4 linked regions of the Homo sapiens genome follow. The protein of the gene in region 1 interacts with the protein of each later gene in a biochemical or structural test. Each region holds a gene or a part of one and is shown in the gene's direction. Other genes may lie near its edges.

What was found.
Region 2: the proteins of FGR (region 1) and STAT3 form a complex in vitro, tested with the Homo sapiens proteins (one study listed by BioGRID).
Region 3: of the proteins of FGR (region 1) and KHDRBS1, one has a biochemical effect on the other in vitro, tested with the Homo sapiens proteins (2 studies listed by BioGRID, with this or other methods).
Region 4: the proteins of FGR (region 1) and DAB2 form a complex in vitro, tested with the Homo sapiens proteins (one study listed by BioGRID).

Annotation. Positions count from the first base shown.
Region 1 is NC_000001.11:27,632,053-27,639,821, reverse strand, and holds the start of FGR (tyrosine-protein kinase Fgr), read left to right. Parts: upstream 1-4,636; 5' UTR 4,637-4,757; intron 4,758-7,769. UniProt on the Homo sapiens protein: Non-receptor tyrosine-protein kinase that transmits signals from cell surface receptors devoid of kinase activity and contributes to the regulation of immune responses, including neutrophil, monocyte, macrophage and mast cell functions, cytoskeleton remodeling in response to extracellular stimuli, phagocytosis, cell adhesion and migration.
Region 2 is NC_000017.11:42,322,443-42,329,442, reverse strand, and holds part of STAT3 (signal transducer and activator of transcription 3), read left to right. Parts: coding exon 1-33; intron 34-3,243; coding exon 3,244-3,327; intron 3,328-4,381; coding exon 4,382-4,480; intron 4,481-4,596; coding exon 4,597-4,732; intron 4,733-5,817; coding exon 5,818-5,870; intron 5,871-6,088; coding exon 6,089-6,183; intron 6,184-6,299; coding exon 6,300-6,439; intron 6,440-6,948; coding exon 6,949-7,000. UniProt on the Homo sapiens protein: Signal transducer and transcription activator that mediates cellular responses to interleukins, KITLG/SCF, LEP and other growth factors. Once activated, recruits coactivators, such as NCOA1 or MED1, to the promoter region of the target gene.
Region 3 is NC_000001.11:32,030,757-32,037,928, forward strand, and holds part of KHDRBS1 (KH domain-containing, RNA-binding, signal transduction-associated protein 1), read left to right. Parts: intron 1-767; coding exon 768-884; intron 885-2,431; coding exon 2,432-2,578; intron 2,579-6,153; coding exon 6,154-6,287; intron 6,288-7,078; coding exon 7,079-7,172. UniProt on the Homo sapiens protein: Recruited and tyrosine phosphorylated by several receptor systems, for example the T-cell, leptin and insulin receptors. Once phosphorylated, functions as an adapter protein in signal transduction cascades by binding to SH2 and SH3 domain-containing proteins.
Region 4 is NC_000005.10:39,379,910-39,387,081, reverse strand, and holds part of DAB2 (disabled homolog 2), read left to right. Parts: intron 1-3,810; coding exon 3,811-4,464; intron 4,465-5,465; coding exon 5,466-5,628; intron 5,629-7,172. UniProt on the Homo sapiens protein: Adapter protein that functions as a clathrin-associated sorting protein (CLASP) required for clathrin-mediated endocytosis of selected cargo proteins.

The DNA of each region.
Region 1 (7,769 bases):
ATTACTGCACTCCAGCCTGGGCGACAGAGTGAGACTCCATCTCAAAAAAAAAAAAAATACAAAATTAGGCAGGCGTGGTGGCGCATGCCTGTAATCCCAGCTACTCGGGAGGCTGAGGCAGGAGAATCGCTTGAATCTGGGAGGAGGAGATTGCGGTGAGCTGAGATCGTGCCATTGCACTCCAGCCTAGGCAACAAGAGCGAAACTCTGTCTCAAAAAAAAAAAAAAAAAAAAAAGAAGGTAATGGTTAGATTCCTGCAGGCCTGGGTTTTCCAGGCAGGTACACTGGAGGGAGAGGGAGGGAGAGGGAGGCCGGACAGTGCCAGGTCTTTGCAACGAATGACCATAAGGACTGACAGCAGAATCTAGGCTGGTTGAAAGCAGGAGTGAGAAGAGGAGGAGAGTGATGGCTAGCTGGGAAATGGATGAGAGAGGTCTCATTGGGCTTGCTGGGCTTTGATTTTTGATTTTGGTATCAGTTTTTAGAATTGTTTTATTTATTTATTTAGAGACAGGGTCTTGCTCTGTCACCCAGCCTAGAGTGCAGTGGTACAACCATGGCTCACTGCAGCCTCGAACTCCTGGGCTGCCCAGGCTGGTCTCGAACTCCTGGCTTCAAGTGATCCTCCTGTCTCAGCCTCCCAAAGTTCTGGGATTACAGGTGTGAGCCACCATACCTGACTTAGAATTGTTTTCAAGGAGCTTGTGAATACATGGGCTGAAAGGATAGGAAACTGTGGTCAGAGAGTTGAGGTTTAATTGAATGAATGAATGAATGAATGAATGATAGTGAACACTTATGTGGTATTTACTATGTGCCAAACACTCCTCTAACAGCTCACTGATTTCTCTCAAGACTTCTGTGAGGTGAGGTCTACTAAATTTCCATTTTACATATGAGGAAACTGAGGTACAGAAAGGTGAAATAACTTGGGCAGGGCGCGGTGGCCCACACCTATAATCCCAGCACTTTGGGAGGCCAAGGCAGGTGGATCAGTTGAGGTCAGGAGTTTGAGACCAGCCTGGCCAACAGAGCGAAACCCTGTCTCTACTAAAAATACAAAAATTAGCTGGGTGTGGTGGCTCACGCCTGTAATCCCAGACACTCAAGAGGCTGAGGCAGGAGAATCGCTTGAACCTGGGAGTTACAGTGAGCCAAGATCACATCACTGCACTCCAGCCTGGGAGACAGAGCAAGACTCTGTCTAAAAAAAAAAAAAAAAAAAAAAGGTGAAATAACTTGTCCAAGGTCAGAGTTGGTCTGCAAACCAGGCAGCCTGGGCCCAGAGTCTGTGTTCCTAATCAAGGTTATTCTGAAAGGATGAATGAGGGCATAGAATCCACTTTGCTCGTCCTAAGAAGTGCCAGCTGTCTCCTGACCTCAGATTGGGTCAGAGCCCTAATCTGGTTTAGAGAGGTCCAGAGACAAAAAACAATGAACACAGAAATATATAATTCCAGATTGTGATAGCCATAGAGGAGACAAACTGGATGCTGAGACCGAGAATAAGGAGACCTTCTTAGATGTGGCAGTCAGGGGAGGCTTCCCTGAGGAGACGGCACTTCAATTGAAGAATAAAAAGGAAGCAGTACTGTGAAGAGCAAGAAGAAGAGCATCCTAGGAAGAGGGAACACCATGTAAAAAGACTGTGAGACAAAAATTCAGTGTATTCTAGGAACTGAAAAAGATCCAAATGTGGGTAAAGGGAAAGATGGCTAAAGCTGGGACTGGAGAGGAGGCAGGGGCCAAGCACACAGGGCCTCAGAGGACAAGACAAAGCTGCTGGATTTTATTATTCTTTATTATTATGGTATCGTATGTATTGTATTTTTATTTTTCCAAGCAAAATGAAAGGTAAGGCACTGGGAGATTTTAAGCAAGGGACTAATGTGGCCCAACACATATTTTAAAAAGTAGAAGCAATTTTTTTTTTTGAGACGGAGTCTTGCTTTGTCGCCCAGGCTGAAGTCCAGTGCCGTGATCTCCGCTCACTGCAACCTCCGCCTCCTGGGTTCAAACGATTCTCCTGCCTCAGCCTCCTGAGTAGCTGGGATTACAGGCACCGGCACCACACCCAGCTAATTTTGGTATTTTTAGTAGAGGCGGGGCTTCACCAAATTGGCCAGGCTGGTCTCGATCTCCTGACCTCAAGTGATTCGCCCGCCTCAGCCTCCCAAAACAATGGGATTACAGGCGTCAGCCACCGAGCCCGGCCTGAGAAGCAATGTTGTCATTTTGTTCTTCCATTCATTTGCTTATTCAGTCATCAATTCTTGAATTTCTTCATTCATTCTTTCTTACCTTCCATTATTTAGTTTTTCACTGGGCTTTCCTTTGTTCATCTGTTAATTCCTTTGTCCTTTGGTTGATTCACGTGTTCCTATACACAGAAAGCCTGCTACTGTGTGCTGGGCCTTGTGTGGGTACTGGAGGCATCTACAAGAGCCAGACCCCTGCCCTTGAGGAAAACATATCCCACACACCCATCCCCCAGGAACCAGTGGTGCCCCAGGCAGAAGATGCTGAGGTTCTGCTGGGGGTGTGGAGTGGGTAGAGGCAGCAATCAGGGAAGGCCTCTAGAGCAGATGCTTGTGAGTCAGACCTTGAAGGATGACAGAGCGAGCATGATAGATTGGGGGGATCCCCCAAGAGCAGGGACCAGTCTCTCATCTCTGTGTTCCCTAAGGCTGGCACCTAAGACACAATTATAAACGTTTGCTTGTTTGCTAATTGAACATGTGGGCCGATGGCCAGGCAGGGAGCATTTGATGGCGGAGGTGATGCTGCCCGGCTAGGGTGAAGCCACTCTTCCAGAGACCCTGCACTGCCACTGGCTCCTCTGTCTTCCTCCTCATCCCTCCTCCCATTTCCTAAGAGAAAAGCATTCTTATCTCCATCCCACCACTCTGTTACCCCAGGCACATTGGGCCACACTTGAGCATGTGTACGCATGCACACACACATCCCCACATGCCCCTGCCCATACAAAGAAACACACTTGCCTGCACACCATGGCCTAGTTGTTGATTCCAAAAGCAAAGTCATCATGTCATTGCTTTCTCTCTCTCTCTCTCTCTCACACACACACACACACACACACACTTCTGTGTTTACGCACACTCTCCCTGCCTCTCACCACATCCCAACAGACACATCCTTCTCCACCAAACAGCCCTCCCCACCACACCTCTTCCTCTCCTGGACAGGAGGGATATTCCGGGTTCTTGCTTTAAGGCTGAAGTAACAGTGGTGGGAGTGGGGACTGAACCCCAGATTGAGGAGGGGTCAGGGATCCCTATCAGACAGAGAGACTGGAACTGATAGAGGATGCTACCGTTTCTCTTTTTGTTTTTAAAAATCTTTTTCCACATGTTCTAAGATACTCAGTTTTTCTTCCTTTTTTTTTTTTTTTTTTTTTTTCTTGAGACGGAGTCTCGCTCTGTCGCCCAGGCTGGAGTGCAGTGGCGCCATCTCGGCTCACTGCAAGCTCCGCCTCCCGGGTTCACACCATTCTCCTGCCTCAGCCTCCTGAGTAGCTGAGACTACAGGCGCCCGCCACCACGCCCGGCTAATTTTTTGATTTTTAGTAGAGATGGGCTTTCACTGTGTTAGCCAGGACGGTCTTGATCTCCTAACATCGTGATCCACCCGCCTCGGCCTCCCAAAGTGCTGGGATTACAGGCGTGAGCCGCTGCACCCGGCCTTTTCTTTCTTTTTTTTAAAAAAAGTCATTTTCTGCAACAAAACCCACATTCTTTTTTTGTGTTTTTTTTTTTTAAGGCAGGGTCTTGCTCTGTCACCCAAGGTAGAGTGCAGTAGCTCAATCACAGCTCACTGCAGCCTCGACCTGCCTGACTCGAGGGATCCTTCCACCTCTGCCTCTGCAGTAGCTGGGACCACAGGTGCACACCACCACACCGAGCTAACTTAAGAAAAATTTTTTTTGGTAGAGATGGTGTCTCCCTATGCTGCCTAGGCTGGTCTGGAATTCCTGGGCTCAAGCAATCCTCCCACCCAACCTCCCAAAGTGCTGGGATTACAGGCTGAGCCACTGCCCCCAGCCAGTTACTCAGTTTTTCTAAAACTTGGGTGCCTGGGGGAGGCTGACACCCTTCCCACTCCTCTGAAAGGCAGTTTCCTAAGGGAAGGGTCTTCTGCTGCTCACCACCCTTAACAGCCCTGTGTCCCCAGTGCTCAGCCCCTGAGGAAGGGAAGGCGTGCTGACAGGGTCCATGTGATCCATGTCCAGTGGCTCTGGTGACAGCAGTCTGAAGTCAACTGGCTGTGAGAACTCGAGTAAGGCCAGTCCCGATCTGGTCCTCAGTGATGGAGAAAAGCCCCTCTTAACCTCCAATTCAATGATCCTAAAAGAGCAGGTGCTTCGGGGGTGCTGAAACTGCGCTTTTGGAGGGGGCTTTTGGGAAGGCCGGGCTGGGGACTCAGGTCTGGAGGGTGACAGAGCCGACCTCCCGTAAACCAGGGAGGAGGAAGGTGGGGGCGGGTGGGCCTAGGATCTGGGGGCGCCTCCTCGCTGCGGGGAGCTGGCTTGGGGCTAGGGCGTGACTGTCTCCCTGCCACCATCACCGCCCGCCGGCCGTGACTGCAATAAGAGAAGTCCGAGGCGGCTTCCTCCTCCCTGCCCAGCAGGGGCGGCGGTCAGAGGCGGGCAGCACCCCAGTTCTCCCCGCACGCCGGCACTCGCGGCTGCTGGAGCCCCGGCTGGCTCACCCCGGGGCCGGGCAGAATTGGGCTCCAGGTAAGCGACAGCGTCGGGTGGGGACTGGGCAGGTCAAGCAGTGCCCTCCCCCTCGAGGCTCTGGAGAGAGGACTGGGGGTACACGGGAAGAGAAGCCTGAACCTGGGGGTCGGGGGACACATGAGCAAGGTGACAGCCAAAGGGACCCCAGCCCGAAAAGGCCTAAGGAGGAAAACGGGCGACCTGAAAAGCAAGGCTGATAAACCTGGAGGAGAGGGCGGAGGGGAGCACGGGGGAAGCCGACCAAAGGGACCCCCAAAAAGGTCTAGTGGGTAAAATGGAGGGGACTGATAAGAGTTTAGGAAGGGGGCTGAGGTGGGGGAGAAGGATTAAGGGGAATCCCCAGGACGGTCTGGGGGAGAAACTGAAGGGATCGTGAGAGTGGGACTTTGGGGAGAAGCCGACGGGTCTGATGGGTCCAGGAGAGGGGAAATGGGTGGGGGTGCTGGAGGGAACAGGAGAGGGAGCTGGCGGGAAGGGGGTTGAGGAGAACGACTTCTGGAGGACGGAGAACCTGGGGTGCAATTGCGGGTCCAGGAAGTTCCCCTCTTCCGAGCCGGCCGAAGTCGGGGTGAAGCCCACAGCCCGCAGGGTAACGTTAGCGGCCGCGACCGCGGCCCCGCGACCCTCTCGGCCCGCCCTTGCGGTAGGTTCCGGGCTGCAGGGGACTCCTGCCGGGCGCGCGAGGCGTGGGTCCCCGCTTCCTGGGGAAGTCCCCGCCCTCGGCAGGGACAGGCCTCTCCGGGCGCCCCCTCCGCGCCCGCGGCGGTCTCGGCCCGCGCTCCCCGCTGGATCCGGGAATTGCTGCCGCCCCGACGGAAATCCTGCCTTTGACCGCGAGTGCCCGCAGGGGCTGCCTCCAAGGCAACGAGAGGGCGGGCCGCGCTGGGCCGCCGCGGGGCTCCGGGTGGGCGCAGCCCCCTTTGCTCTCCGCCTTCGCCCCCTTTTGGAATCCTCGGTCTGGTGGGTGGGGGGTGGGCTTCCCGACCGAGGTAGGAGGCGATGCCGCTGTGTTCAGGGATCCTGGGGTGGAGGATCTGCTGTTTGAGAGACCTGGGTTCTTAGCAAGACTGGGCCCTTAATTGCTGTGTGACTGTGGGCAAGTTACAGGGCTTCTCTGGGCCTCACTTTCCTCATCTGAACTATGGTGAGAAATGATCCTTGTGTCCACTCTTCCCCCACGAGAATCAGGTGCAGAAAGCAGTTTTTGCTGAGTGTCCTGAAGGGTTAAGGGCTATCCCTGACTCAGCGAGCCTCCCCTTCACCTTCTCAAAAACATGCAGAGGAGGCCAGCCTGGGCAGCACAGGGAGACCCCCGTCCTGTCTCTACAAAAAAATATAGTTAGCCAGAAGGCTGGAAGTGGTGGCACCTGCTGTAGTCCCAGCTACTCCAGAGGCTGAGGCCGGAGGATCGCTGGAGCCCACGAGTTCAAGGCTGCAGTGAGAGCTCCTGGATGAGAGAGTGAGATTTTGTCTGTAAACAACAACAACAACAAAAAGCATGGAGGGGGACCAGACTGCCCGGCTCTCACTGACAGGGCCTCCAGGGACCAGCACACAGTTGGCGTCTAAATAGTTTATGGCTCTGATGAGAGCCCATACTGGGGAGGTCAGCAGAGTTAAAATCTGTCTCACACCCTCTCTGGTGCTGCATCCAGTTGGCCGCCCCTCGGGTGTGTACTCTCAGGGGCCCTGATGTCCTTGGCATCCTTCCGACTGTGGTGATGATGGGAGAGCAGGACCCTGTTCCCACTTCACAGATGGGAAGATGGAGGTTTGGGAGTTGGCAACCTGCAGGGCCAACAGTAGGGACCAGAATTCCAGGACATCTCGTCTCTGATGTAGCCTGAGCTGAGGCCTGAATCCTTACCTCATCCCTACCAAGTTTCATGTACCCTCCGGGGAGGAGGGTGTGGGGTTTAGGGGCTTCATGACTACTTCCTGTTCCAGTGAGTAGGTGCTCTCACACCCTCCTCCAGTGAGGGTGTGAGTGTTTGTATGTTTTGGGCTCTGAGTGAATGAGCATGAACCCTTGAGCATATGAGTGGATGTTTGGGTGATCTCTGCAGCCACCTGGGGCTGATGTGGCAAAGGAAGTGGCCAGACCTCAGGAGGCTGGGTAGGGAACCCCAGAGCTGGGGAAGTAGGGGCCAGGGCTCTTCCCACGCAGAGCAGACTGGGCTGACCTAAGGTGGGAAAAGGCAGGATGTCCCCCTCACCGCCCCACTCCCCTGAGGGACCAGGGAGGGGGCTTCCTGTCTGGCCACACTGTGAAATCTAGACTCCCATCCCTTGGCTGCCCCTGGACCCCCGCCCCCCGCCGCCATGGCTTCCATCTCCTGAAAATCCTGAGTCCCAGGCCAGATGGCATCTAAAGAGCTGTGTTTTAGAGGCTGGTGGGTGGTTTTCAGCAACAGGTGGAAAACCACTTTTACCCACAAGAAGTGGAAAAAACTGCTAATGGCCTCGGGACCACATGGAGGGTAAAGGCCACCCCCGATCCTGCACACACCTGGCCTCACCACGGTGGTGGTGGAGTCAGACAGGGTTGGGTGGGTATGTCTTCTTCAGGAGGCAGTTTCGAGGCCTCAAGAAAGGATGGTGTGAGATGAAAGGGGGTTAATGAAGGCAGGGCACGGTGGCTCACGCCTGTAATCCCAGCACTTTAGGAGGCCGAGGTGGGTGGATCACCTGAGGTCAGAAGTTCAAGAACAGCCTGGCCAACATGACTAAACCCCATCTCTACTAAAAATACAAAAATTTAGCTGGGCATGGTGGCAGACGCCTGTAATCCCAGCTACTCAGGAGGCTGAGGCAGGAGAATTGCTTGAACCCGGGAGGCAGAGGTTGCAGTGAGCCGAGATCGAACCATCGCATTCCAGCCTTGGCGACAGAATGAGACACTGTTTCAAAAAAAAAAAAAAGAAGAAGAAGAAGAAGAAGAACAAAGAAAGAAAGAAAGGGAGTTAATGAGCAGTGGGGGCCTCAGCAAAGGCACTGGCATTCAGCCAG
Region 2 (7,000 bases), on another chromosome or scaffold:
AGATGTGGGAATGGGGGCCGAGCCAATTGTGATGTAAGTTTTGTTGGGGATGAAAGACAACTGGGGTGTTTTCCTTGAGGGAGAGAGGGGTAAAGATCCTTCTTAATCCCCAGAATTAGAAACATCAACCTGTTCTTTCAGCTGTAGTTATTCCAAAAAGTCACTTCAGGCCAAAGTGACATGAACAGAAGTTCCATGTGCCATGGAGCTCTCTGGCTTGGAACATTTCCGTGAATATCTGGGAGTTGGCTCCTCCTTAAGGAGAAGTGGAAAGTCCCTTGCTGAGTTGTTCTCCACACCCATGTGGTATAAAGCAGCTTTCCACCTTGCCTGGGGCTTTCCAAATTCCCCATCCAGCTCCTGCGGCTGACCCTGCTTGGCTCCATTTTTAGTGCCCTGTTTTTCTCTCCCACTGAGGTGGGATAGAGGGTGTAAAAGCAACAGATTTGAGTTAAACTTTAAAATAAATGACCACCTTGCATTAGCTTGCTTAGGAAAAGAGTACATAAAATAAAATGAACAAACAAAAACCCATCTTGTTCTTTATCCCCCTTATTTTCTGCTTTTCATTGATTCAGATTATTGGATTCTTATTGTCAAGAATAAACTTTAAACAAACAAACAAAAAAAGGTAAATGTGACGGAAGGCTAGTTTTCAGTCATTTTTAAAAATTGTGATGCCCCGTTCTTTTTCTTACATTTGTCCCCTGAACAATTCTTCCTCTTTAAAATGTAGCAGTCCTAGCTGGGCGTGCTGGCTCACACCCCGTACTTTGGGATGCCAAGGCAGGCTGGTCACTTGAGGTCAGGAGTTCAAGACCAGCCTGGCCAACATGGTGAAAGCCCGTCTCTACTAAAGATACAAAAATTAGCTGGGTGTGGTGGTGCACGCCTGTAGTCCCAGTTACTGGGGAGGCTGAGGCATGAGAATCGCTTGAACCTGAGAGGTGGAGCTTGCAGTGAGCCAAGATTTTGCCACTGCACTCTAGCCTGGGCAACAGAGTGAAACTCTGTCTCAAAAAAATAAATAAAATAAAATGTAGCAGTCCTTTTTAAAAATGTGGAATTTTACTTGACAGTAGAGTGAAGTAGCCTGTATGCAATGATATGGGAAAATGTACATGACATATTAAGAAAAAGCAAAATGTAAAATAATTTGAATAGTATTATTAGTATATGTGTTTTAAAAATACACTATACTCTTATGTGTATTCATATGTATATTAAGAAATTCTGGAGGAATATACCAGCAGTGCTATGTGTATTAGTGCTGCTGTTGGTATCCATGGCTATTCTAGACTGTCTCTGTGATATTTGCATTTTAAACTGAATATATTACTTTTATAATCAGAAAAATAGTATTAAAAATGAATTATAATTTAATTTCTTTTTTCTTTTTTTTTTTTGAGTCGGAGTCTCGTTCTATCGGATTGCAGTGGTGCGATCTCAGCTCACTGCAACCTCTGCCTCCTAGGTTCAAGCGATTCTCCTGTCTCAGCCTCCCAAGTAGCTGGGACGATAGGTGCATGCCACCACGCCTGGCTAATTTTTGCATTTTTAGTAGAGACAGGGTTTCACCATATTGGTCAGGCTGGTCTTGAACTCCTGACCTCGTGATCCACCCATCTCGGCCTCCGAAAGTGCTGGGATTACAGGCATGAGCCGCTGTGCCCAGACTAGAATTCAATTTTTGAGAATTCATTGACAACTCTTACTTAAAATAAGGTTGCTGTACTGATGTGAGACATTGTTGTAGTCAGTTTGGAAAACAATTTGGCAGTATAAAAATGAACATACCTGTAAACCAACGGTGCCATTCCCAGGATTTAATAGCAGAGAAATCTTTGCATATATGTCCCAGGAGACATATATAAAGTGGACATCAGCCTGATTATAAGCTCTAAATGCAACCCAAATAAATACCCATCAACATTAGAATGAATACATTATTTGTGGTATAGACACAATGGAATACTCCGCAGCTGTGAAAAGGAATACACTGCAGATACACATAACCATGTGGATTCATTTCACATCAAGTGAAAAGTGAATCCCAAAAGAATTCATTGGAGTCCATAAGTGTAAGGTTCACAAATGTCCCAAACTAAACAATACCTGCATTGCTTAGATAAACAAATATGGTAAAACTGTAAAAAAACAAAACAAAACAAGACAAAAAGGGCTAGGAAATGATAAACCCAAAAGACAAAATAGCAGTTATTTCTGAGGGAGGAGGGAAGGGGATGGGGTTGGGGAAGGGCACCCAGAGAATTTTAGGAGTGATGGACTTTTCCTTAAATTGAATGGTGGGTTCATATTGTTTTGTTATTCTTTGTGCCTTACGTATTTTACAAATAACCAATTGGATCTATGTAATATTATAATACAAACTGAGTAAAGGATTAGGTTGAGGATCACAGCATTGGAAGTTCTTGGTGTTGAAGAGAGTAAGTGCCGAGCAAGTTGTGTCCCTGGCAGTTTGTTTGTGACCACCTGGTGGCTTACCCTTCTTGGTGTGGTGAGGCTTGGCATGTCACTTTCCTTGGCTGTGGCTGTTAGTACTGAATGCCATTCTCTCTGAGGAAAAGTGTCCTTCTCTTTTTTATTGATTGACTGATTGATTGAGACAGAGTCTCACTCTGTCACCCAGGCTGGAGTGCAGTGGCGTGATCTCGGCTCACTGCATCCTCTGCCTCCTGGGTTCAAGCGATTCTCCTGCCTCAGCCTCCTGAGTAGCTGGGACTACAGGCGCCCACTACCACACCCAGCTAATTTTTGTATTCTTAGTAGAAACGGGGTTTCACCAAATTATTGGCCAGGCTGGTCTCGAACTCCTGACCATGTGATCCACCTGCCTCGGCCTCCCAAAATGCTGGGATTGTAGGTGTGAGCCATCACGCTCAGCCTTTTTTTTTATTTAATTTAATTTTTTTTTAAGACAGGGTCTCACTCTGTCACCCCAGCTAGAGTGCAGTGGCACAATCATAGCTCGCTGCAGCCTCCATCTCCTAGGCTCAAGCCATCCTCCCACCTCAGCCTCTCGAGTAGCTGGGGCTATAGGTGTGCACCACCACACCCAGCTAATTTTTGTATTTTTTGCAGAGATGGAGTTTTGCTGTGCTGCTTAGACTGGTCTCGAACTCCTGGGCTCAGGCAATCCTCCTGCCTTGGCCTCCCAAAGTGCTGGGATTACAGGCATGAGCCACCACACCTGGCCTAAGAGTGTCCTTCTCGTTACTGTAGGCTTCCCTGATTGTGACTGAGGAGCTGCACCTGATCACCTTTGAGACCGAGGTGTATCACCAAGGCCTCAAGATTGACCTAGAGGTAAGTTCTGCAGCAGAATCGGTGAGAGGCTACGTACAGGGGTGACTCAGGACAAAAACTTCCACTGGGATTTTTACAAGAGAAGGTGGAATGATTACTGTTTGCTTAACACTGTGTTTATTTTTGCTTACTTTTCTCCAAAAAAATCCTTGGCATCCCATCTGGCAATAAAGTCTTGCTTGAATGCTTAGAAGATGTGTGTATATTCAGCTTTCAGCAAACTTGATATGAAAATCTCTATTTAGAAATTGATTGGCCGGGCGCGGTGGCTCACGCCTGTAATCCCAGCACTTTGGGAGGCTGAGGCGGGTGGATCACGAGGTCAGGAGTTCGAGACCAGCCTGGCCAACATGACGAAACCCCGTCTCTACTAAAATACAAAAATTAGCTGGGTATGGTGGCGGACGCCTATAATCCCAGCTACTCGGGAGGCTGAGGCAGGAGAATCACTTGAACCTGGGAGGCAGAGGTTGCAGTGAGCTGAGATTGTGCCATTGCACTCCAGCCTGGGTGACAGAGTGAGACTCCGTCTCAAAAAAAAAAAAAAGAAATTAGAACTGACTTTATAAAGTTTGGGCATAAGAGTCTTAGCAGCCAGTGTGTTTAGTATACAGAAAATTGTGGCAATGACATTCTCCTTTCCCAACTTTCTTGATTTTTAAATTAAGATATACCTAGAAAAGCAGGAATCCTGGTCTTTGATTCCTGAGACCTCCCTGTTTCATGTGAAGATACAGCTTCAAGTCTTGGAGAATGCCTCCAAGGTCTTAAAAATGGGGAATCTGTGGATTGTGAGTCAAGCTTTGAGCAAGTCAGGTTTTACAAGGGACCGGTATATTCCGACTGCAGCCTGAGTTGTGTGGCCACGCTGGGCATTCTTTCCACTATGAGTGCTCACTGAGCTGACTCACTCACACTCCTCGCCTAGAGTTGGCAGCAGGTGTGGTTTATGGCATGTCCTTTCATTCTGAGCCCCGTGAGATGCGGGTGAAGAGATTTCCAAGGCTGTGAGAGCCCCTCTGCCTCCCCAGCTCAGTCCCCACTCCCTCCGCAGACCCACTCCTTGCCAGTTGTGGTGATCTCCAACATCTGTCAGATGCCAAATGCCTGGGCGTCCATCCTGTGGTACAACATGCTGACCAACAATCCCAAGGTTAGTGCCCCCTCCTTTTAGTTGGTGCCCCGGGATCTCTTGCGACTTAGGGGTACCTAGTATAGACAATGAGCACCATCCCTCATCTAAACAAGCAAATGTGTTCTTTCCAATAGAATGTAAACTTTTTTACCAAGCCCCCAATTGGAACCTGGGATCAAGTGGCCGAGGTCCTGAGCTGGCAGTTCTCCTCCACCACCAAGCGAGGACTGAGCATCGAGCAGCTGACTACACTGGCAGAGAAACTCTTGGGTCCGCATTTCACCCCTTCTCCCTCCCGCCCACCCGCCCAGAAAAGGGATCCGGCCCATAGGGCTGTTCATTTGGGCCATGTCTACTGAGCATTAGGCCATGTTTCTTTCCTGAGCAAGGCGCTGTGCTGGTGCCAGGAAACAGGGGAGTTGGGGAGTTGGGGTGCAGAGACAGTTTGCAGTTTTCAGTCGAGGTGATCATTTTTGAGGTGGGAGGTAGATTTCTTTTCTCCTGGTTGCTGTCTCATTCACCCACTCTATCTAACTTTAGAAGATCTTTTAAGTGTGTGTTGGAAGGTGGCACTAAAGGCTTGACATTCCCTGTCCATTTTTTTAATAAACTATAGGCTAGTTGGTTTTTTTTGTCTTATTTTATTTATTTATTTATTTTTTTGAGACGAGTCTTGCTCTGTTGCCCAGGCTGGAGTGCAGTAGTGTGATCTCGGCTCACTGCAACCTCCGCCTTCTGGGTTCAAGCGATTCTTCTGCCTCGGCCTCCCGAGTAGCTGAGACTACAGGTGCTCACCACCACGCCCAGCTAATTTTTGTATTTTTAGTAGAGACGGGGTTTTACCATGTTGGCCAGGATAGTCTCCGTCTCTTCACCTCGTGATCCGCCCACCTCGGCCTCCTAAAGTGCTGGGATTACAGGCTTGAGCCACTGTGCCCAGCGTAGGCTAGTTTTTAAAAAAGAATTAGTGGAATATTTTATGTGCCACCTGGGCTAGAAGTAGCTTTGTTCTAATAAAGCTGTTGCCACCAAATACACCTGTCTGACACCCGATGTCAGCTTGTTAGTGAGTGCTGCTGTTGGTTCCCAGCCTACCACCCGAGGTTGGGAAGAGCAGGGGGACTTGTTATATCACCCTCCATCCCTGCTGGGCTACCCAGCAACACAAGTGAGTCAAATGATGGGATAGTGTTTGTCCTCATGTGCACACACACAACAGTGCCTACCTTCAAAGATGTGAAAGCTGATTATTTTGTGGCCCATTGTGGGATGAATGTGTGTGTGTTCTGTTTTAAGAAATAACCTCTTGACCCCAAGCTGAAAATGTACTACTTGACTCTTTTTCTTTCCTTCAGGACCTGGTGTGAATTATTCAGGGTGTCAGATCACATGGGCTAAATTTTGCAAAGTAAGCAATCTTGTTAAATTCTCGTGGGAATGGGAATGCTCACCTGCACGGCTGTCGTTGAGGGCTCTGGCTTGAAGGCCCTGAACTCTTGGTCCAGCGGCCAGTAGGACCTGCCTGAAGGTAGACGGGCCTGAGGATTTGGGTGATGCACTGCACCCCTAGGAAGGGAAGGGCTGGGATGGCAGTAGACTTGGCTTTCCCATTACTCTTTTCTCCAGGAAAACATGGCTGGCAAGGGCTTCTCCTTCTGGGTCTGGCTGGACAATATCATTGACCTTGTGAAAAAGTACATCCTGGCCCTTTGGAACGAAGGGTAGGTTGGACAGAGTGTGCACAGATGTAACCAAGTCCCCTGCTCTCAGCAAGCCAGTGGCAGGGGATGGATGCCCTGTTAGCAATAACAACATTGTTCCTCCTCCTTGGCTCCAGGTACATCATGGGCTTTATCAGTAAGGAGCGGGAGCGGGCCATCTTGAGCACTAAGCCTCCAGGCACCTTCCTGCTAAGATTCAGTGAAAGCAGCAAAGAAGGAGGCGTCACTTTCACTTGGGTGGAGAAGGACATCAGCGGTAAGGGAGGCTCCCACCCACCCCACCTGCTGGTGGCTGCTGAGGCCTCATCACTGCTTCTAGTTGCAAGCACCTACTGCCCCCTGGTGGGTGGAGATGGCCTTGACTCCCTGTTTCACTCAGACTCGCAAAACACATTTGCGTGACTTCTAAATCCTTCCAGCTGAAGGATTGGTTTGCTTTGTTTTGCTTGCTCCAGTGACTATTTGTTGAGAATTTTGCAATTTAAATTGTATTCTTCATCTCTTTTTCTACTTAACCCTGTTAATATATCTTACGCAAGTAGTTATATTCAAGTTTATTTTCTATGACCCAACTAGTAGCCTCTTCTTAATTAGAAGCCAGCCTGAATATTTCCACAGTGCCAGGCCACTGAACAGGGTGTTCAGGGTCTCAACACTAGGGTGGCTTAAGTCTTTTCCCCTTCGAGGAAAGAAAAAATGGGCAGTTTTCTCTGAGATGACCTAGCTGTAGGTTCCATGATCTTTCCTTCCCATGTCCTGTGACAGGTAAGACCCAGATCCAGTCCGTGGAACCATACACAAAGCAGCAGCTGAACAA
Region 3 (7,172 bases), 4.4 Mb from region 1:
AATATAATATGAATCCTCAATTGGTTGAAGTTAATTTTATTTTCTTACTAAAAGTTTACTTTTAAGTAAATGCTTTTTTTCTTCCTTTTTTTTTTTTTAGGAAAGCATTTAGTTACATTTAGTTTATCCAGCGTGTTATCAAAGGGTGCTATATAGTCTCTTCTGTTCTGAGGTCACTGCCTTAAAAATGTTGATGTATGTTAAGTGCTGGGCCAGGCACAGTGGCTCATGCCTGTAATGCCAGCACTTTGGGAGGCCGATGCAGGCAGATTGCTTGAGCCCAGGAGTTCAAGACCAGCCTGAGCAACATAGCGAAACCCCATCTCTACAAAAAATACAAAAATTAGCCTGGTGTTGTGGTGTGCACCTGTACCCAGCTACTCTGGAGGCTGGGGCAGGAGGATCACTTGAGTCCAGAAAGTTGAGGCTGTGATGAGCCATGATTGTGTCACTACACTTTGGCCTGGGCAACAGAGTGAGAGCCTGTCTCAAAATAAAGTAAAAAATAAAATAGTAAAGGTCTTAATGTATTATGGAAGAGCACCAGAATACATCAGAAAAGCCAAATTCAGGTCTAGGAACTGCCACTTTCTAGTTTCATAACCTTAAGCTAATCACTTTATTAATATGGCTTCAGTGTCCTTCAGTAAAATGGGAATGGTAATACTCTACCTTTGCAGGGTTGTTTAAAATCAAGTGAGGTAATTTATGTGGAAATGTTTTTATATAGTAGCATGTATATTTAGAAATCCTCTATTTTCTGTCAGTTCAATTTTGTGGGGAAGATTCTTGGACCACAAGGGAATACAATCAAAAGACTGCAGGAAGAGACTGGTGCAAAGATCTCTGTATTGGGAAAGGGCTCAATGAGAGACAAAGCCAAGGTAAGCTCACATTAGTGAGGCAAGAGGACATCCTAATGCCTTCTACTTGCCCAGAATGCAGTATGGATGTCTTATAGAGGCGGCAAGAATTTTGTATGTGTACAGAATGTGGCTCCTTTAAGTTTGCACTGGATGCAAGAGATTATACACCAAGTTAATTTACTTGGCTTGGCAACCCTGGAAGAGCCTAGGTGTGCCCTGGTGATAGTTTTCTTTTGGACTTTTTGACTGTGTAGTAATGGAAACAGCAGTAGCATGTTGCGCATTGGTAGGATTGTCTGTGAAAACTTGAAAGGGGAACTGAATATACTAAAATTTAGTCTAAAGCAGACAAAAGACGCTAAAATGCAAATAGCACACCCCCTTTTTTGTAACCTGGAAAAGTGAGAACAATAATGTGAGAGCAGATGAGTTTGAGGATTAGTTGGTTTGTTTTATAGCCGGTTTGGAATGTGAGGCTCACTAAAAGAATGTATTCCAAAAGGAACCATGAGTAATCCTGACTACAGAATCTAATGCGTCTTTTTTTTCCCCATGCCATAGCCGCGTACGCTGTGTACTCTGTGACAAGAAACTTCTCACCAAAACAGAATAGTCTTAGCCTTCTGGGGTCACCTTATTTGATGAGATATTCCTGCTACAGTCCAAAAACCAATTCTTTCAACCCTCCTTTTATGTAGTCTAATGGACACATGTTTGTTTTCTCAGGTCATTTCTTGCTAGATGCATATAGTTACGGCTGAAGTGTGTTCTAACTAATGAGATTTACATGAGCTTTTCTTCCCTCTGTCCTGACTTCTTTCTTCCCCTACCACTCCCTAGACCATATAAGCAGATAAGCAGAGCTCGTGGTGATTAACAGCTCTACCTGTGATTTAAAAACAAATGCTTGGCAAACAGCTATTATCTGAATAGACTAGAATTAAGTTTTTCTTCTTTATGCTTTTAGTAGGAGCTCCAATGGATATCTCAGGGATTTAAGACAACAATTAACTGTAAGCAGCAGACCATGTGCAAGTTTAGCAGGCTGTGCAAATTACTGTTCTTGAGAGTTTGTTTTACTTTTTTTTTTTTTCTTGAGAGGGAGCCTTGCTCTATTGCCCAGGCTGGAGTGCAGTGGCTCACTGCAACCTCCACCTCACGGGTTCAAGCAATTCTCCTGCCTCAGCCTCCTGAGTAGCTGGGATTACAGGCGTGCGCCACCATGCCCGGCTAATTTTTGTATTTTTAGTAGAGACGGGGCTTCATCACATTGGTCAGACTGGTCTCGAACTCCTGACCTTGTGATCCTCCCGCGTCAGTCTCCCAAAGTCCTGGGATTATAGGCGTGAGCCACCGCGCCTGGCTGCTTGTTTTACTTTCTTAAACTTTACTGTTTTTCTTTTTTCTTTTTTCTTTTTTTGTTTAATTCTTCTCAGCTCATACCAATTAACTTTACTGTTTTTCATGGACATTAGGGGTATTTCTTGCTGTTCCTTTGGCTTAGAGGTAAAGGTGGTGTTTTCTCCCTAGTCCATGGTGTGACATTTCTCTGCATTTTTCCATAGGAGGAAGAGCTGCGCAAAGGTGGAGACCCCAAATATGCCCACTTGAATATGGATCTGCATGTCTTCATTGAAGTCTTTGGACCCCCATGTGAGGCTTATGCTCTTATGGCCCATGCCATGGAGGAAGTCAAGAAATTTCTAGTACCGGTAAGGAAATCCATATCCTGTGTCTTCTGAGCAAAAGAGAACTGGGATCTTATACTGTTGTGAAGGTAGGGGTTCTTAACTAAGGTCTCTGCATAACCTGTATGTATACCAAATTCTGCACTTATGTTCATTTTCCTTAGGTAGTTCGTTACTTGCACCTAGTTCTCAAAGCATTATGCTCCAAGGCCACTCTATCCCTCCTTGTCTAATGTGGTTTTCATTGTGTACCGGTATCTTGTCAGTATCTCGGGTCCACAGTGTGCCTGCATTCTGATATTTGGTTAACTAAGGTTTAACAGGGTCTTCACCTAGCTGAGTATTTTGGTAGTAGTGTGGAACAAGGAGATTGTGTTAGGAAAGTGACTAAGGTGGGTCTCTGCACTCAAGAAGTTCATGCTGTAGAGAGTAGAGACTAGCAGCAAGAAGCTTATAGCATCTAGTGTTATTGGGTTAAATTCTGACCTGAGCACACTCAGGGATTTCTTTCCTGGAGGAGTTTGCTGAGGACGAGTTTAGTTTGGAAGAGGTTGACTATTGATGTTTAACAGATAGGTGAGCAGCTTTTTTCAGACTATTACTGAGGACTAGATAGAGATGGGACAGGCCAGTTTATCTATCTTGCTTGTTACCACCTTTGAATACTTGGTTGGAATATTACTTTGAATAAATAGGAAATGGTACTATTTTTGCCTTTTAGCAAGGCCTGGTGGTTGTCAGAGTTAACATACTACTGTTGAATATTTAATAACAAGGATGAATCTGGAGACTTATGAAGGATTTGGAATATTATTAAGTAGAATTGAGTAAGCGTCATGTGTTCATCAGAAAACTAGGAGGAGGTAAGATACAGTCCTTGGTTTTCTTGAATGTTAAATGAGGGAATTAGAACTAAATGTGGTGTCAGATGATGTGAAAATTGATAGGGCAAAAATTTATAGGCAGTGTGGGCCAGGCACGGTGGCTCACGCCTGTAATCCCAGCAATTTGGGAGGCCGAGGAGGGCAGATCACCTGAGGTCGGGAGTTCGAGACCAGCCTGACCAACATGGAGAAACCCTGTCTATTAAAAATACAAAATTAGCCGGGCGTGGTGGCACATGCCTGTAATCCCAGCTACTAGGGAGGCTGAGGCGGGAGAATCACTTGAACCCAGGAGGCAGAGGTTGCGGTAAGCTGAGATTGCACCATTGGACTCCAGCCTGGGCAACAAGAGTGAAACTCCATCTCCAAAAAAAATAAATAAATAAGTTTTTAGGCATTGTGTACCCATAATGCTGAACTCCAAGGATTCCAACAGTCTCAAATGTCTTAGCAGCTGCTTTGCTTTCAAGTACCTCATCTTCATTAGAATGTTCAACATGAGGCAGGGCGCGGTGGCTCACACCTGTAATCCCAGCATTTTGGAAGGCCGAGGCGGGTGGATCACGAGGTCAGGAGATCAAGGCCATCCTGGCTAACATGGTGAAACCCCGTCTCTACTAAAAATTCAAAAAAAAAATTAGCTGGGCGTGGTGGCAGGCGCCTGTAGTCCCAGCTAATCGGGAGGCTGGGGCAGGAGAATGGTATGAACCCGGGAGGCGGAGCTTGCAGTGAGCCGAGATTGCGCCACTGCACTCTGGCCTGGGTGACAGAGTGAGGCTCTGTCTCAAAAAAAAAAAAAAAAGAATGTTCAACATGAAACAGACCATTTAACATATCCTAGAGAAAAACACAGCTGGTTAATAATCTTAAGGAAATTCTTTTTACTCTTTTTGGGGTGTTCTATTGATCACCCAAGCCATTCAATTTCCAAAGGACTGCAGAGGGAATGCCCATCTCCTCTCTTCATTGTTAGTCTCCCTCATATTCCTCAGAAGGGTTAGGTTTATGAGGCTTGCTTGTAAGTGAATCTTTTGAAAAAGATGCTTGCCGGGGAGATGTGGGTTTCCTCAGTGTTGATGTGGCAGTTGGAGGAGTCTGAGCAATGGTCTGGCATTGGTTACTTGATTCTCCAAGGTGTGAGTCTCAAGCAGCGGTAATGTGTAAGGTAGGAGGAGCTAGAGAGTTGAGGGGGGCATCAAAGACTAGCATCATCTATTGAAGCTGTATACGCCTGGGATATATAAAAATGCATGAAGTATTAAGACTGAATGGCTCTCAATAGGAAGTGTGAAAAGATTTGCCAGTGGCATTTGATTTTTCCCTCTTGTGGAGGAAAGAAAAGTGAGGCTATTTTTGCATCTGTGACCAGAGCCCTCCATTTTCCACTTAGAACAATTAACTATACCAGCAATGCTTCACAGTGCCGTAGGAAGAGCACTGGACTATGTATGTCTGTCTATCTGTGTCTTCCTGAACAGGTTATCATTTCACTTTTCTGAGCTTCAGGTTTCTTGTTCGTCCCAAACATTTCTTAAGTATCTGTCAGATGTCTGATACTATGCTTGGGTGTAAAGTTACAAAAATGGCTCCTAAAGAGCTTACAGTTTAGTGACAGACAATTCTAAAATTATGTGGTAAGTGCTTGGGTATAGGGAATTATGTGGTACTTTGAGAAAAGAGGAGTTGTAGGGGTGGCATCAAGAGAAAGTTTTTCAAGAGACACTTATTTAGGCAAGTCTTGTAAGGATGAATTAAGAATCCCTCAGGTGGACAAAAAAGACAGTATAAGGACAAAAAAGCCTGTTGATCCAACACCTAGATTTTGAGACAGGTAATTCTGAATTCACATCTAGAGTCTGCCATTTATTAGCTCTGTGTTCTTAAGCTGGTTGATGTATACTCCTTGAGTCTGTTTTCTTAACTGTAAAATGTGGAGATCTGCCTACTTATTTCAGGGTCATTTTGAAGATTTTTTTTTTTTTTTTTTTTTTTTTTGAGATGGAGTCTCTCTCTTTCGCCCAGGCCGGACTGCAGTGGCGCTATCTTGGCTCACTGCAAGCTCCGCCTCCCGGGTTCTCGCCATTCTCCTGCCTCAGCCTTCCGAGTAGCTGGGACTACAGGTGCCTGCCGCGCCCGGCTAATTTTTTTGTATTTTTAGTAGAGATAGCGTTTCACCGTGTTAGCCAGGGTGGTCTCGATCTCCTGACCTCGTGATCTGCCCGCCTCGGCCTCCCAAAGTGCTGGGATTACAGGCGTGAGCCACTGCACCCGGCCCTCATTTTGAAGATTAAACTGAAAAATCTATATAAAGCTTATTATATAGAGCCAAGTGCATACAGCTCCATTAATGGTAGTGGCTTTTATTATTCCAGGAAAAGGAAACTATTTGCAAAGAATGGATATGTAAGAGTATGCCAGGCTCTGAACTACAAGTTGTTCAGTCTGGCTTGTGAGTAGGTTATATATAGAGAGAGAATGGAAGTGATCCGGAGAGCTAGGCAGAGACCACATTATGAATAATGAGGGGTCTACCATCAAGACTTTTCTCAAAGAGGTGACAGATAGGGTGCCATTTGACTTCAGAGAAGGAATGACCTGAGACCTCATCTGGGCTCTCAAGAGCTCTTCTTAGAATTCAAGTCTCCCGTGGACCAGATGATTTCTCAGTAGAAAGTGTAGATACCACACAATACTCCTTGTATCTTTCGTTCCCAGGATATGATGGATGATATCTGTCAGGAGCAATTTCTAGAGCTGTCCTACTTGAATGGAGTACCTGAACCCTCTCGTGGACGTGGGGTGCCAGTGAGAGGCCGGGGAGCTGCACCTCCTCCACCACCTGTTCCCAGGTAAAAATAATGGAGACACCCAGAAATAGGATGTGAATTTGACTACTAGTGTCATCTCTTTTAGTGGTGCTCTTATGTCTAGCTTAGGAAGGGTCTCAGGATTTGTATGTTGCATAAAGAACAGAATTCTACAACCATACTCTCACACCTGTAATCCCAGCACTTTAGGAGGCTAAGGCAGGCGGATCAACTGACATTTGGAGTTTGAGACCAGCCTGGCCAACATGGTGAAACCCTGTCTCTACTAAAAATACAAAAATTATCCAGGTGTGGTGGCATACACCACACTACTCAGGAGGCTGGGGCAAGAGAATTGCTTGAACCCAGGAGACGGAAGTTGCAGTGAGCCGAGATCATGCCACTGCACTTCAGCCTGGGAGATAGAGCAAGACTCCATTTCAAAAAAAAAAAAAAATAGAGTTCTAGATCTTGGGCACTTTGACCATAGCCAAGTGCTGCAGTCTAGCTGAAACTTTTGGTCTTCTAATTTTGGACAGTCTTAGCATTTGTTAATGGTCTGACTTTAAAATTCTACCTTTTGTGACTGACCTTTATAGAGTATTCAGACTCTCCAGACCTACCCAAGGCAGTGCAGTGATGAATTGGTCCTCTATAGGACCTGGGGGATCTTGCAGTGTGGGTCCTTTACCCTGTACATTCCTCTGTGCTTTAATAATAGCCTAGTTAAGGCTTCATAAAATCTGCCTAATTCCAGAATTTGTAAACAAATCAGAACATAAAAGTGGCCTGTTTATAAAAAGCTCCATTTAAGATAAACTTTCATTTTGTAGGGGCCGTGGTGTTGGACCACCTCGGGGGGCTTTGGTACGTGGTACACCAGTAAGGGGAGCCATCACCAGAGGTGCCACTGTGACTCGAGGCGTG
Region 4 (7,172 bases), on another chromosome or scaffold:
TATCACAATGCATGGTAGCATTCTAAAATGCCTTTAAGAGAGAAGCCTGTTTAATATTCATTTTAGCAGTGAGCCCTAACTCACTTGCCTATAGAACCTTTCATTCTTCATAATTTTTGTTATAGTTCTGAGGATAAACTTTTTAAAGTACTAGACTAGATTATCCTGACAGGTCCATCCTAACTCTGAGGTCCTTTTGATTTGTAGTCAACTTTGTGCTCTCCTCCATTAGTGATGTTTTCTCAAATAAATCAGTATCTGAACACTTACTTCCCAAGTATAAATGACATTCAAACAAGTAATATTCAAAGAGAGCAAAGCACTCAAGATATGAAGTGGAATTCCACTGGAATAGGCAAGGAAGTACTGCCTATATAATCTACTTCTGTAGACTTCTAGAATGTTCTAAAAAAGGAAATGGAAAACAACATGGATAATCTTCAGTCTCATTTTTATTAGACTTTATGAAGTCTAAGAATTTTTTATTTATAGGAATTCAAGTTTTAGTTAAACTAACAATAAAGTAATAAATACCATCAAAATATATACTCTCTGATAACCAAAAGAAGGCTAACAGATCTAATTATGTGCTGGTTAGGCTTTGACATGTTCTTATCTATTGACTCTATAGTCATAGGTCAAAAATAGATTTATCTCTACTTGGTAAAGCCAGCATGTTTAAAAATATTCAACTCTTTCAACAATTGCTCTGAAATATGTAAAGAGAGAAAGAAATCTAAATTACCTAGACTTTATTATTGGTCCTAGATGGTTGTCACTCCCCTCAAATTTATACAGAAAAGTTTTATGAGTTTCAAATAATGCTCATGTTGCAAACTATGTGGTATCCCCTAGAACAGAATTTTTATTGGCAAGCCCCTTGAGCATTATCCTTCCACACTGCATCTCAAAAAAGGAAAAGAAAGAAAAACATAAAAACCCATGTTCTGCAACTTTAACAACCACTTGAAAGCACAGTTACTATGGAAAGAATATAAGACATGATCTGTGATCAAGGAGATTAAATCTGGTACAAGGGATGGGATCAGGATACAAAGCAGGAGTGTCACTTATGTCCTTGTGTACATGCCATAAGATAACACGGGTGGGCACAGGGCAAGTGCAGACAGAAAAATCGATGCTAAAAGCTTTGTAAAGAATCTGAATTTGAGTTGGGTCTTTGAAGTGTGTAGGAAAATAGATCATAGTTGGGCTAGAAACAACGTGGGTCTTATTGTGGATCATTTGGAAATTTGGCCTAAGGAGGTTTATTTTAATATAGGGAGCCAGCAGTAAGCCACTTAAGGCTTTGAGTAGAGAAGTCCTCAGTCTGACAAACTGGAATGGTTAGGTGAGATTAGCCACCCAGAGAAGAGCTAGGCTATGGAACTCAGGATTTATGTCCGATTACTGGAGCTCCCTACGAGCAGGTTCTGTAACGCACTGCCGTGTCTCCAGTGCGTGCGGCTCAGGTGCTCAAACAGTGGCCAACTGGAGGCAGTGTTGACAGTTCGACAAAGAATGAATGAGGCGCTGACCAAGTGGGTGGATGAGGAGTCTTTGGGCTCTCAGTTGTAGTCTGTGAACTACACTTTTAATCTTGGATTAATAACAAACCCAGCCTGAGGAGAGCCTTATACATTTTACTTATAGGGTGACTATTCAGAAGTCTAACATTGTGGCTCCTGTTTGGTGTCCTAAGAACTTCTTCTGAAGTATTTGAAAACGAGAACTCTACCAGCTGTGAACACTCAACTGTTCTAACCCAGAGGTGGCTCAAAACAAATAAATAAATATTGAAATCACAAGCTTTTGTAATACATTTTATCCTACCTTTTGATTGTATAAAGATCCCTAGATTAATAGCTCTTCCAATCCATTTCTCTGATTAAATTTTTTTTTAATTATAAGCTCTTTCTTGTGACAAATTCTTCTTTTATAAAGAGAAAGCCTGGCTTTGGCTTATAAAAACTGTATTTTTATGCCTCACAGTAAAGGAATCCAAAAGATAGATTACCATTTAGGTCTGATTTTGCTGTCTCTTTTGTGGCCATGAAATAGGACTTAAACTTTCTAAACAATTGGGTATTTTTTTTTCTTTTAAAAGCCAAGGAGTTCTATTTGAACCCTTTTGTATTTACTAGTTTGCAAATTTTATATTCCCTTGAAGTTGTTTATTTTCCCCAATGATCAAAATATTTAGTATTCTGCTCAGGGTAATGCAAGATAACTACTATAACTTGCACTTCAGCAAGGCATTTTTTATCATTTATATTCTTCTCTGGGTAGCATAGTTAAGTATTTAATGGATCAAAGTCAAGCAGAAGGAAGTGATGTCAGTATGAAAGTTCTGTTCTAGGATGAGTTATAATTCTGTCTTTTACTGGAATAAAGACATGTCGGATTCATCAAATTTACTGCTTTTAAGCTGAGAATTTTTTATCAAACAGTTGAAAATCCAAAAAATTAACACACCAGAGAAATGATAGAGAGGGGATAGAATTAGTAGAGCTACATATTTGATATGTCTTTCAAATTAACTCTTAAACCCATGTCTCTACCTTGTACAATAGTCCCCCTTTATCTGCAGTTTCACTTTCTGAAATTAAGTCTGTGGTCAACCTTGGTCTGAAAATAAGTGAGTACGGTACAATATAATATTTTGAGAGAAGAGAGACAGAGAGACCACATTCAAATAACTTTTATTACAGCATATTGTTATAATCATTCTATTTTATTACTTGTTAATCTCTTATTGTGCCTAATTGATAAATTAAACTTTATCATGTGTATGTATATGAGAAAAATACTGTATATAGGTTTTGGCACTATGTGCCATTTCAGACATCCACTGTGGGCCTTGGAACATATTCCCTGAGGATAAGGAGGGACTACTGTATATAAATTAAAGATCAGTTGTTGGTTGACTTTAACCACTAAATAGATGAGATTACTGTCACAACACAGGCAACTCTAAGCAATGTTATGAAAAGATGTACAAATAGGAGATCTTAATGTGTGATTGACTAAATTAGATCAGTATTGAGTGTCTCTTTCAGAGGACATAGACAAAAAGGGTAAGCCCAGAGGAGAGACTGGGATGATGAGGATGAGATCCTACTTGACTATCAGCTTCAGCAAGAGCCTTAAATATTAAGAGACATACCTGAAGGCCGTGATATAAAAGAAAAGCCTCTCTCCCACCTCTAGAGGAAAGAACTGGACCGATTTTAGGGAAATGCATTTGATCTTAAATTTCATCACAGCCAGAACTATAAAATATGAATGTATTAGTCGATGAATTTTCTCATTTAGAGAGATGATCCTACATGACTCTGGGGGTACAATAGAGAGGACTGTATGTGTATAGGTAGGAAGCTGAGCTAAGCTTCTGAAATCACTTACTTTCAAGCTCAACATACTTTGATAATCATTTATAGTGACTCACAATCAATTCCCTTTAAGACTTTCAAAGTCACAAATTGAAACAATGCTCATAATGAATTAAGCCAGTCTGTATGTGTGAACCAGGGTGAGCAGAGACATGAAGTAAGCAACAGTAAGATTTCACCTAATGAGGTTGAGACTTAAATAAAAGGGCATGATATTGGGGAGGAATAGAAAGGACCTAGTCTATAGCTAGGGAGTAATGGACTACGGGGGTTGATGGAAGGAGGTAATGATCAACCGATTTATCAAGACCAAATTCAAATGGAAATTCTGATAATCCTAGTCATCTTATGTAATTTTCTCATTTGAAGTCACAACATGGACTAACACTTTCTTTTTTTTTCTTTCCAAATGTGATAGGAAAGCAAAGATATCCTGTTAGTGGATCTAAACTCTGAAATCGACACCAATCAGAATTCTTTAAGAGAAAATCCATTCTTAACAAACGGCATCACCTCCTGTTCTCTTCCTCGACCAACGCCTCAGGCATCCTTCTTGCCTGAAAATGCCTTTTCTGCCAATCTCAACTTCTTTCCCACCCCTAATCCTGATCCTTTCCGTGACGATCCTTTCACACAGCCAGACCAATCGACACCTTCTTCGTTTGATTCTCTCAAATCTCCAGATCAGAAGAAAGAGAATTCGAGTAGCTCGTCTACTCCGCTGAGTAATGGGCCCCTGAATGGTGATGTTGACTACTTTGGTCAGCAATTTGACCAGATCTCTAACCGGACTGGCAAACAGGAAGCTCAGGCAGGCCCATGGCCCTTTTCAAGTTCGCAAACCCAGCCAGCAGTGAGAACTCAAAATGGGGTATCTGAAAGAGAACAGAACGGCTTCTCTGTCAAATCCTCCCCGAACCCTTTTGTGGGAAGCCCTCCCAAAGGACTGTCCATACAGAATGGCGTAAAGCAGGACTTGGAAAGCTCTGTCCAGTCCTCACCACATGACTCCATAGCCATTATCCCACCTCCACAAAGTACCAAACCAGGAAGAGGCAGAAGGACTGCTAAGGTGAATTGTCTTCTCCACATATCCATTAGCAGAGTGCATGTTCGGTACCAAAGGGTGGTGTGATGCAAGCTCTCTTTCCTGCTGCTCTCGTAGTTTCCTGTGTTGCTGTGAAATAGAAGGTGGGATAAGGCACTTTGGTTCTCCAGGAGTACTTTCCTCTAACTGCCACCGTTTTTAAGCTTCTCAGCAGTGTTTTTCACACCCTGCTTTCCGTGTGCATGTCTTGTCACTTATGATTAAACTAAACACAAGTTTTTCCATTTTTAATGCTGCTATGCTTCTATACCTCTGGTAAGTTTGATCATCGTGTTCTGGGTTGGGAGGGTGAGAGTTCTTGTGATTCCCTTTGTACTTCCCTGACACTAACACATGCCCTGCACACCCATCATGTTGCATCAGTGTCCATGGTGGTGGTATAAAATTCTCGAGCTTATCTCCTCTTTTAAATACTGAGTAAATACATAAGCTTTTTCTAAGCTTATGTATTTACTATTACCACTATGATCTCAGCTTTATTTAAGAGCAATTTAAAATGCAGTTCCCATAGGTGTCTTTTTTTACCTCTCCTAAGAATATACAGGCTTGCCTGGATTAAGACCCTATGATCTCTATGTAGACTGACTTAAAATCCAATGGAATGAACAAAAATATTTAGGATGCTTATTGGTAGTTGCCCCTTTTACACACTTGCTCCCCCAACTTCAAGCATTTAGCGATGAGACCAGACCAATGTGAGTGTGTAAAGGAATATAGTAGATTTCACTTTGCAAGTCCTAGGTAGTGTCAGACACTAAGACTCAGTAGTCCGTCCGTTGTAGGAATCTGTGTCTTTTTTTGGAGGACTCTTTTTCTGTAGTAGTAGTTGTTGTTGTTCATCTGTCAAGAAAAAAGTTTTCCTTTTTGTGGCTCTCAAATTGGGGTATAGGGTAGGAGACAAAATGAGGCTGTATTTCACTGTTAGTGAGTAACTAAGGCTTCTCCCTCCCTCCCTGTCCTGTCAGTCTTCAGCCAATGACTTGCTTGCATCAGACATCTTTGCTCCTCCCGTCTCAGAACCTTCAGGCCAGGCGTCACCCACAGGACAACCTACAGCCCTGCAGCCCAACCCTCTGGATCTCTTCAAAACAAGTGCTCCTGCCCCAGTGGGGCCCCTGGTGGGTCTAGGTAGGTGCCTAGAGATAAAATTAAGTATGACTCTTTTGCTTTTGCTCATAAAATGATGATGCATCGGAAGAGATTTCATACTCCCAGAGGGTTTTACAGCATAAGATTTGAGCATCCCAGGGAGCCCTTCTCCCACTTCTACTATACAACCCCACATCCATTTGATATTCTTGACTTGTAACTCACATTTGGCTCCTCGAGGCAGCATGAGACAAGAAATTCATTTTCAGTATTGTACTTACTTGAACCAACTGGTCATGGTTTCCTGAAAGACAATTGTAAGGGATTCTAAACTCAGACCAGCTTCAGTAGCAAAACAGGGTTGACATAAGAGAGGCTTGTCTGTCAACATGCATGTCTTCCATGTCTTTTGCCATAATAGATCGAAGGCCTATGTCCTTTCAACACATAGCCCTCTTAGAAGGAATATATGCCCAAGAAGGATGTAAGTTAAGTCTGAAGCAAGAATAAGTCATAGAGTGAAAGTCCTAGGTTCTGGGCCCAGCTGTGTTCCTAGGTGTATGGTAAGGGTAGATCAGGCACACATCCTGATCAGTCTCTGAGCACTTCTGCCATAGGAGCTCCTTGCCAATATTTTGGCTAGCTTGAGTGTTTTACTGAAGCTAGAACATAAGTCCTAGAAAGCCAAAGTTGAAAAAAGAGAGAAATAAGGGAAGAGATGGAATTTTATCAGACAGCTAGTATGCATTGACGCTCTTAATTCCTAAATGTGTCATTAGCTTGTGTGAGCCGCTGATCACTCTGTGGTAGGACAGTGGGAAAGTCCACTTGACTGAGGGCTGGCCTTGCTATTCTTAGTCCATAGCCTATAGTTCTTTTCAGACTCCATGGTACAGTTTTCAGAAACCCTGACAATAGTTTTTGCTGTCCTGCTATGGACTCTATTTTTCTTCTCTTGGCACCTCTACAAACTCCAAATGGACTCTGGCTTGGGAGGTGGAGGACTGTAGACGAGGAAGGACTCTCCTCTCCTTCGGTAAAATCTGACCAGGGATCCTGGCTTTCTCTGCCTCCTGCAGTCAGTCATCAGGATCCTTGTTTTGTTTTCCTCTCTGTCTCTGTTGTTTTCCTACAAAGGAAAATAGTTTGGTTCTTTTACAAGAAATCTGTTTAATCATATCTAGAATAGGGTGGCCAGAGGAGGACTGTTACTCAACTGCTGAGTGGCAGAAATCCGTGAGGGTATGAAAAGCCAGCTTGTCCCAGGTCTCTGCTCGCATTTACCCCATCAAGAGGCTCTCTCTAAAGACTTCATGTCTCTTGGGGGCTTCCCCCTTTCTGCGTTGCTCTTTTCCTTGCACCCCCAAGTGGAGCTGGTTGGTACCCTTCCCTCACAGAAGACCAGAGTGCTTGCAATGCAATGTCTGCAGCGAGATCACATCACAGAGCTTTTTATCTGATATCAATGCCCTTAAGAATTTTTGCAGCCAATATTTAACAAGTCAGCCTGAAAATACAGCTGGACCCTATAACTGTTTATTTATTCAGACGAAGTGAAGCTTTTTGGCTAGGTGCCCCTGTTG